Regions from separate parts of the Homo sapiens genome. Here region 1 is linked to region 2. Evidence: fine-mapped expression QTL. A gene starts in region 2. The other region holds a variant in brackets. All regions are shown on one strand. Distances are from middle to middle. Region 1 has its middle 17 kb from the start of LINC02091. Region 2 holds the start of DOC2B (double C2 domain beta).

The links. PIP is the estimated chance that this variant, and not a neighbour inherited with it, causes the effect.
Region 1: its variant is fine-mapped to the expression of DOC2B in whole blood (TOPMed, PIP above 0.99).

The regions. Positions count from the first base shown.
Region 1 is chr17:203,052-205,956 of GRCh38, reverse strand. No RefSeq gene overlaps it. Among named protein-coding and RNA genes, the nearest start is that of LINC02091, 17 kb to the right of the region's middle. The variant T/C (reference allele first, on the strand shown) is at 1,657.
Region 2 is chr17:180,263-183,167 of GRCh38, reverse strand. It overlaps DOC2B (double C2 domain beta), which reads left to right and starts at 1,518. Exons shown (of 9, transcript NM_003585.5): 1 at 1,518-2,061. The coding sequence starts at 1,689. RefSeq lists enhancers at 633-1,134, 2,596-2,905.

The sequences.
Region 1 (2,905 bases), 23 kb before region 2:
ATGGACGGCACACAGACGCACACACACGTGTGCATACACTAGTATGTACAAACACAGAAAGGTTCACCTGTTTACAGAATACGTAGGAGGCCAGGTGCAATGGCTCATGCCTGTAATCCCAGGACTTTGGGAGGCCAAGGCAGGAGTATCACCTGAGCCCAGGAGTTCGAGACCAGCCTGGGCAATATGGAGAGATGCCATCTCCACAAAAATTAAAAAAAAAAAAAAATAGCCAGACGTGGTGGTGCATGCCTGTAGTACCAGCTACACAGGAGGCTGAGAAGGGAGGATCACTTGAGCCCAAGAGTTTGAGGCTGCACTGAGCTGTGACTGTGCCACTGCACTCCAGCCTGATTGACAGAGCAAGACCCTGTCTCAAATATATGTGGAGGACCAGTGCCTTTAAATTGCTCATCCAAGTGCCAGCAAATGCTCTTCTGCACAGGGGAGGGATGAGACCAAAGGAAAACCTGGCACTGGCATTGCCCGGAGTATGTGAGGAGAAGGACCTCGCCAGGCCATGTGTGAAGAGCATTGGCAGAGCCCCTGCCATGGCTAAGTCCTGGTGTCCCCTGCAAAGCAGGGCCTTGATGCTCCAGTTTCCTGTCCCTTTCCTTTCCTCTGCAAACGGTCAGGGCTCTGACCCGCAGCGCCCGGCCCCACCCCGGGGCTGTCTTGTGCAGAAAGCAAAGCAGAGTGTGCCTCTCCTCACCCCACAGTACCGAGGAGAGCAGGCAGGCAGGAGGAGGAGGAGGCAGGAGCTCAGAGATCCTTAGGAGCCCCCGACGAGGTGCCCCCAGTCTCCACCAAGACGGCCGAAGCTCTGAGCCTTTGATGCAGACCTCAGGATGTCTGCAGCTTCTTCAGTGCCAATTACCAGAAAATAATTCAGCGTGCTCACCCCCTGCCTCTCAGCGGCTGCTCTTTGGAGACATTTTAAGTCTGACTGTACCTGCTGAGCAGCTGACAAATGAAGCTTCTCCCTCCCTGCTCCCTCCTTCCCGACTGCCATCGCCTCCACCTTTGCCCAGGCTCTTTCATGGGGAAAAGGGAACCAAAAGCTGGGCCCTGTCATCCCTGCCCCCACAGCAGGGGCCTGCCCAGATCAGTCGCTGCACCTTCTTCCCAGGCTCTGCTTCCAGACGTGGCATGGCAAGGCTGGGTTCCCTAGAGCCCGGCTCCTGAAGGCAGAAGTCAAGGCTTATTCACCTTTGGGTCCCTAGTTAGCTGTCAAGAAATATTGCTGGATCAATGGATGCATGGATGCATGGGTAGATGGAGGGGTAGGGGATGGGTCAGTGGGTGGTGGAGGGGTGAGGATGGTTGGGGGATGGGTGGATGGCAGGTGAGTGAGGAGATGGATGGAGGTCTGGATGAGTGAGGGATGGGTGAGGAGATGGATGGGTGAGTGGGTGGAGGAGTGGGGGATGGGTAGGGCGATAGTTGAGTGGGGAATGGGTGGGGGAAGGATGGGTGGGGGAGGGGTTAACGGATGGCTGGGTGGGGGAAGGGTGAGTGGGGGCATAGGGGGTAGTTGGATGGATGATGATTGGGTGGGGGATGGTGGGGGTGGGTGGGTGGAGGACAGATGGGAGGATGGATGATGGACAGACTGATGGAGCATTGGACAGATGGATGGAGAGACAGGTGCATAGA[T/C]ATTCTGCATGGACCAATGTGCTGAAGGACATCTGAGAGGATGGACAGATGAACAGAGGATGGACCAGTGTCCTGATGGGAAGAAGGATGTGTGGATGGATGGAAACACTCCAGGCCCAGGGCCTGTGTGCTCTGCATCCCTAGGGAGGGGCCAGCAGATCAGGAGCCCCAACCTACACTTCCCAGAAGCTGTGGGTCCTCGGCCAGGAGCACTCAGTTCACAGCAGCCACAGGAATCCTGGGCAGAGCAGCTCTTGAGCCCTGGTCTCTGTGCCTCAGCCTGGTCTGCGTACCTCAGAGGGCCCTTGTGTGGAGCCCTGGTCTGTGTGCCTCAGAGGCCCTCGTGGGGAGCCCTGGTCTGTGTGCCCCAGCCCGCCTCAGTGACCCCCAACAAATTCCCCCCCTATCAAAATCACTATAGCTGTAGTCCCAGCTACTTGGGAGGCTGAGGCAGGAGGATTGCTTGAGCACAGAAGTTGGAGGCTGTAGTGAGCCATGATCTCGCCACTGCACTCAGCCTGGGTAACAAAACAAGACCCTATTCAAAAACAGTAAATAAATGAAAGAAAACCCACTGCCACATTCCTTATGCTAATAAGGCTAGCCAGCCCTTAATGTGTGTGCAGATGAGATCTTACTCAAACTCATTCACACAGAAGTACAGGCATGTGTCACCTAACAACCAGGATACGACAGGGATACTTCCAAGAGATGTGTTGTCAGGCAATTTCATCATTGTGCAGACATCATAGAGAGCACGGACGTAAATCTAAGTGGCAGAACCTACAGCACACCTAGGCTATGTGGGAGAGCCTGGGCTCCTGGGCTACAAACCTGTGCAGCATGTAGCAACTGCGACACCGTGGAATTATGTGTGTAGCTAATCATAGAAAGGGTACAGTAAAAATACGGTATAAAAGATGTTTTAAAATGACACAGGTGTATAGAGCACTTCCCGTGAATGGAGCTTGCGGGACTGGAGTCGCTGTGGGAGAGTCAGTGTGTGGTGAGTGTGAGGGCCCAGGGCATTACTGTCCACTCGTATGTGACTGGCAGTGTAATAGGTGTGTTCACACCAGCATCACCACAAACGAGTGATAACGTGTTGCACTGTGACATTACACGCCGCAACCTCACTAGGCAACGGGAATTTTCAGCTGCTTTGTAGTCTTATGGGACCACCGCTGGATATACAGCCTGTCATTGACAAACTTCGTTATACAATGCATGACTGTATTCTAAAATAAAT
Region 2 (2,905 bases):
TTCTCCAGTGTTTTCAAAGGCCGGTAGTGCCCGCCACCACCCAGTTCAGAACTCACCACAAAACATGAATTTCTCATCACTTCTCACCATGAGTCTTGTCTTTCCAAAGGAAGGGAGAAGGGAAAGCCAGCTGAGCACCTCTTACCTGTCTGTGCTGGATGGGGCCTTGCCACAAGGCTGTGCAGTTGGAAATAGCCTCACTTCATAGATGAGGAAACCGAGGCTCAAAGAGGTCAAATAGCCTGCCAGAACTGTGCAGCTGGAAGCCACAGGCCAAGGCTTTGCCTCTCTTTCCTCTGCTCCCCATCACTCTGCAGGGGTTATGGTGGGGGAACAAGAGAGGCTTGGAGCCCCTCATTCAGATGCACCAAAGGCACCCACTAAGAAGCTAAGTGTCTTACACATCAGTGGAAACCAGAGGGTAAACAGGATTCCATCCATGCCCAGGGCTTTCCGGGAACACACCTGTCCAAGCAGCAGCAGTTCCCAACAGAGCTCTGGTCCCGGAAAGCCGGACAGCCAGGGCTGGGCCCTCTGGGATTTGTTTAGTGATCTGACCGTGTGGGAGGCCTAGAGTAGGAGTGGGGGTGGGGGGAGCGTGCCGCCCAGCCTTATTGCATCACTCACCGCCCAGGCCCTGCCCTCACTCCCTCCTGACCAGGCCCTGTGCAGGTTCTCAGCCACCCTGCCCCGGGGGGTCCTTCAGACTGTACTCACTGACCAAGTGAGGGACTGACCCGAGGTTAGAGTGCTGTGTTGTATGTGACCTGAGAATATGTGTGCACAGACTGAGCCCCGGTGTCCTTGTGCAGTTGAGCGTGTACATGTCCTGCCCGTGTGTAGGCAACCTGTCCCTACATGCTAGGAGTGTGACTCCACGTCCTGCTAGAGGGGGAGGAGAGAAGGAGTTGTGCCCAGGGTCCCCTGATCACTTCTATGGGCTCATGTTTGTGCATCTTGTTAGGGGTGCTTGGGGGTAGGGAAGCCTGTGCCCTGGGTGCCCTTGATCACCTGTGTGTGTGCTCCATCAGGTGTGCGCGCCTGTGCATTGGGGGTGTACTGTGTCACAGCTTCCTAAAACAACCATGTGCGCATGCAGACGTTTGCGTGTGTGACCTACGGTGTGAGCGAGCGGATGCTTCCACCACGTGTCTCTGCACACGCATGTGTGCACTTGCACACCTGCGTGTGTCCCGAGAGAGCGAGCGGAGCCCAGCGTGGGCTGGCACGCGCGGGAACGTGTGGGTGCGCGTCCTGCGGGTCCCTGCCGGGTTGACTCCCAGCTTGTGCCGCGGGCGTGCATGAGCGGAAGGCGCCCGGCGGCCCTGCCTGGCCGCGAGTGTGCGCGCGCGGGGTCCCGGGCCGGCGTGCACGCCGGTGTGAGTGCGAGTGCGAGTGAGTGTGGCGCCGCGCGGCTCCCTCCGCTCCGCGCCGCCCGCGCAGCCCGCACACTCACCCTGCTTGGTTGCTGCCGGGTGACGCGGGCTGGGCCCGCCCCCTGCCTGCCGGCCTCTGGCACTCGCTCGCGCCGTCCGCAGCGGAGCGGGCAGCGGCCAAGTCAGGGCCGTCCGGGGGCGCGGCCGGCGATGCCCGCAGCCCCCGCCGCGCCCCGCCGGGCCTGCTGAGCCGCCCCCGGGCCGGGGTCGCGCCGGGCCGGGCCGCGCCCGGGGCGGGGCGGCGCTGCCTGCATGACCCTCCGGCGGCGCGGGGAGAAGGCGACCATCAGCATCCAGGAGCATATGGCCATCGACGTGTGCCCCGGCCCCATCCGTCCCATCAAGCAGATCTCCGACTACTTCCCCCGCTTCCCGCGGGGCCTGCCCCCGGACGCCGGGCCCCGAGCCGCTGCACCCCCGGACGCCCCCGCGCGCCCGGCTGTGGCCGGTGCCGGCCGCCGCAGCCCCTCCGACGGCGCCCGCGAGGACGACGAGGATGTGGACCAGCTCTTCGGAGCCTACGGCTCCAGCCCGGGCCCCAGCCCGGGTCCCAGCCCCGCGCGGCCGCCAGCCAAGCCGCCGGAGGACGAGCCGGACGCCGACGGCTACGAGTCGGACGACTGCAGTAAGTTTCCCACGCGCCGACTTCGCGCCCCCTCCCCTGGCTCGGGCTCGGCCCCCCCACGGCCTCGCGGCTTCCCTCCGCCGGTCCCCCTCGCGCGCTCGCGCTCTGCCTCGGTTCACAACCCCGCCGCGGGCTTGCGGGCCCCTGGCGCACTCGGTGCGCTCTCCGCGCCCTGCCCACCGGCCTCGAGCCCTCCCCCGACCCAGGCCGGACAGGAGGGAAGTTCGGGGGCACCCCCTGGGGGTGTCCCATTTCCGGGGCCGGGTTCCTCGGAGCCGGCGCCGCGCCCCCTCCCTGCCAGCCCGCCCTCCCGGAGCTCCGGCGCGGGCGGCTGCTTTTGTTCCCGGGAAGGGCGGAGCTGCGTCCCGGGGAGACACCAGTTGCTGCCGGCCGCGCGGTCGCTCCCCGCTCGCCAGCCGCTCCGGGAGGGCCTCGCGGCCGAGGGTCGGGGCTGGGGCGAGCTGGGGAGGGGCCCGAGGCTGGGAGCGGCCCGGCCTCCCGCGTGGTCCCGGCGGCCCGCAGAGCGCAGCTGCTTTGCTGGCGCGCGAGCAGAGGACCAGGAGGACCGCGGGGCCGCTTGTCCTTTGGAAAAACCTTGGCGTTTCCTCCTCCGGTGTCCATGGACCCCGCCGCAGCCCTCGCCAGGGCCGCGCACCTTCGCCCACCTGTTACGCCCGCGGCCCCCGGGCAGAGAGGGCCCCCCAGCCCGCTCCCCCTCCTCCCGGACTGAGCCCTGAGCCCCCGGGAGCAGGCAAGCGCCGGAGTCCCGGGACCGAGGCCCGGCCGGTGGGCGCTCCTGGCGCCTTTTCCCGTCCCCGAGGGTGCCTGTCCGGCCCGAGCCGGG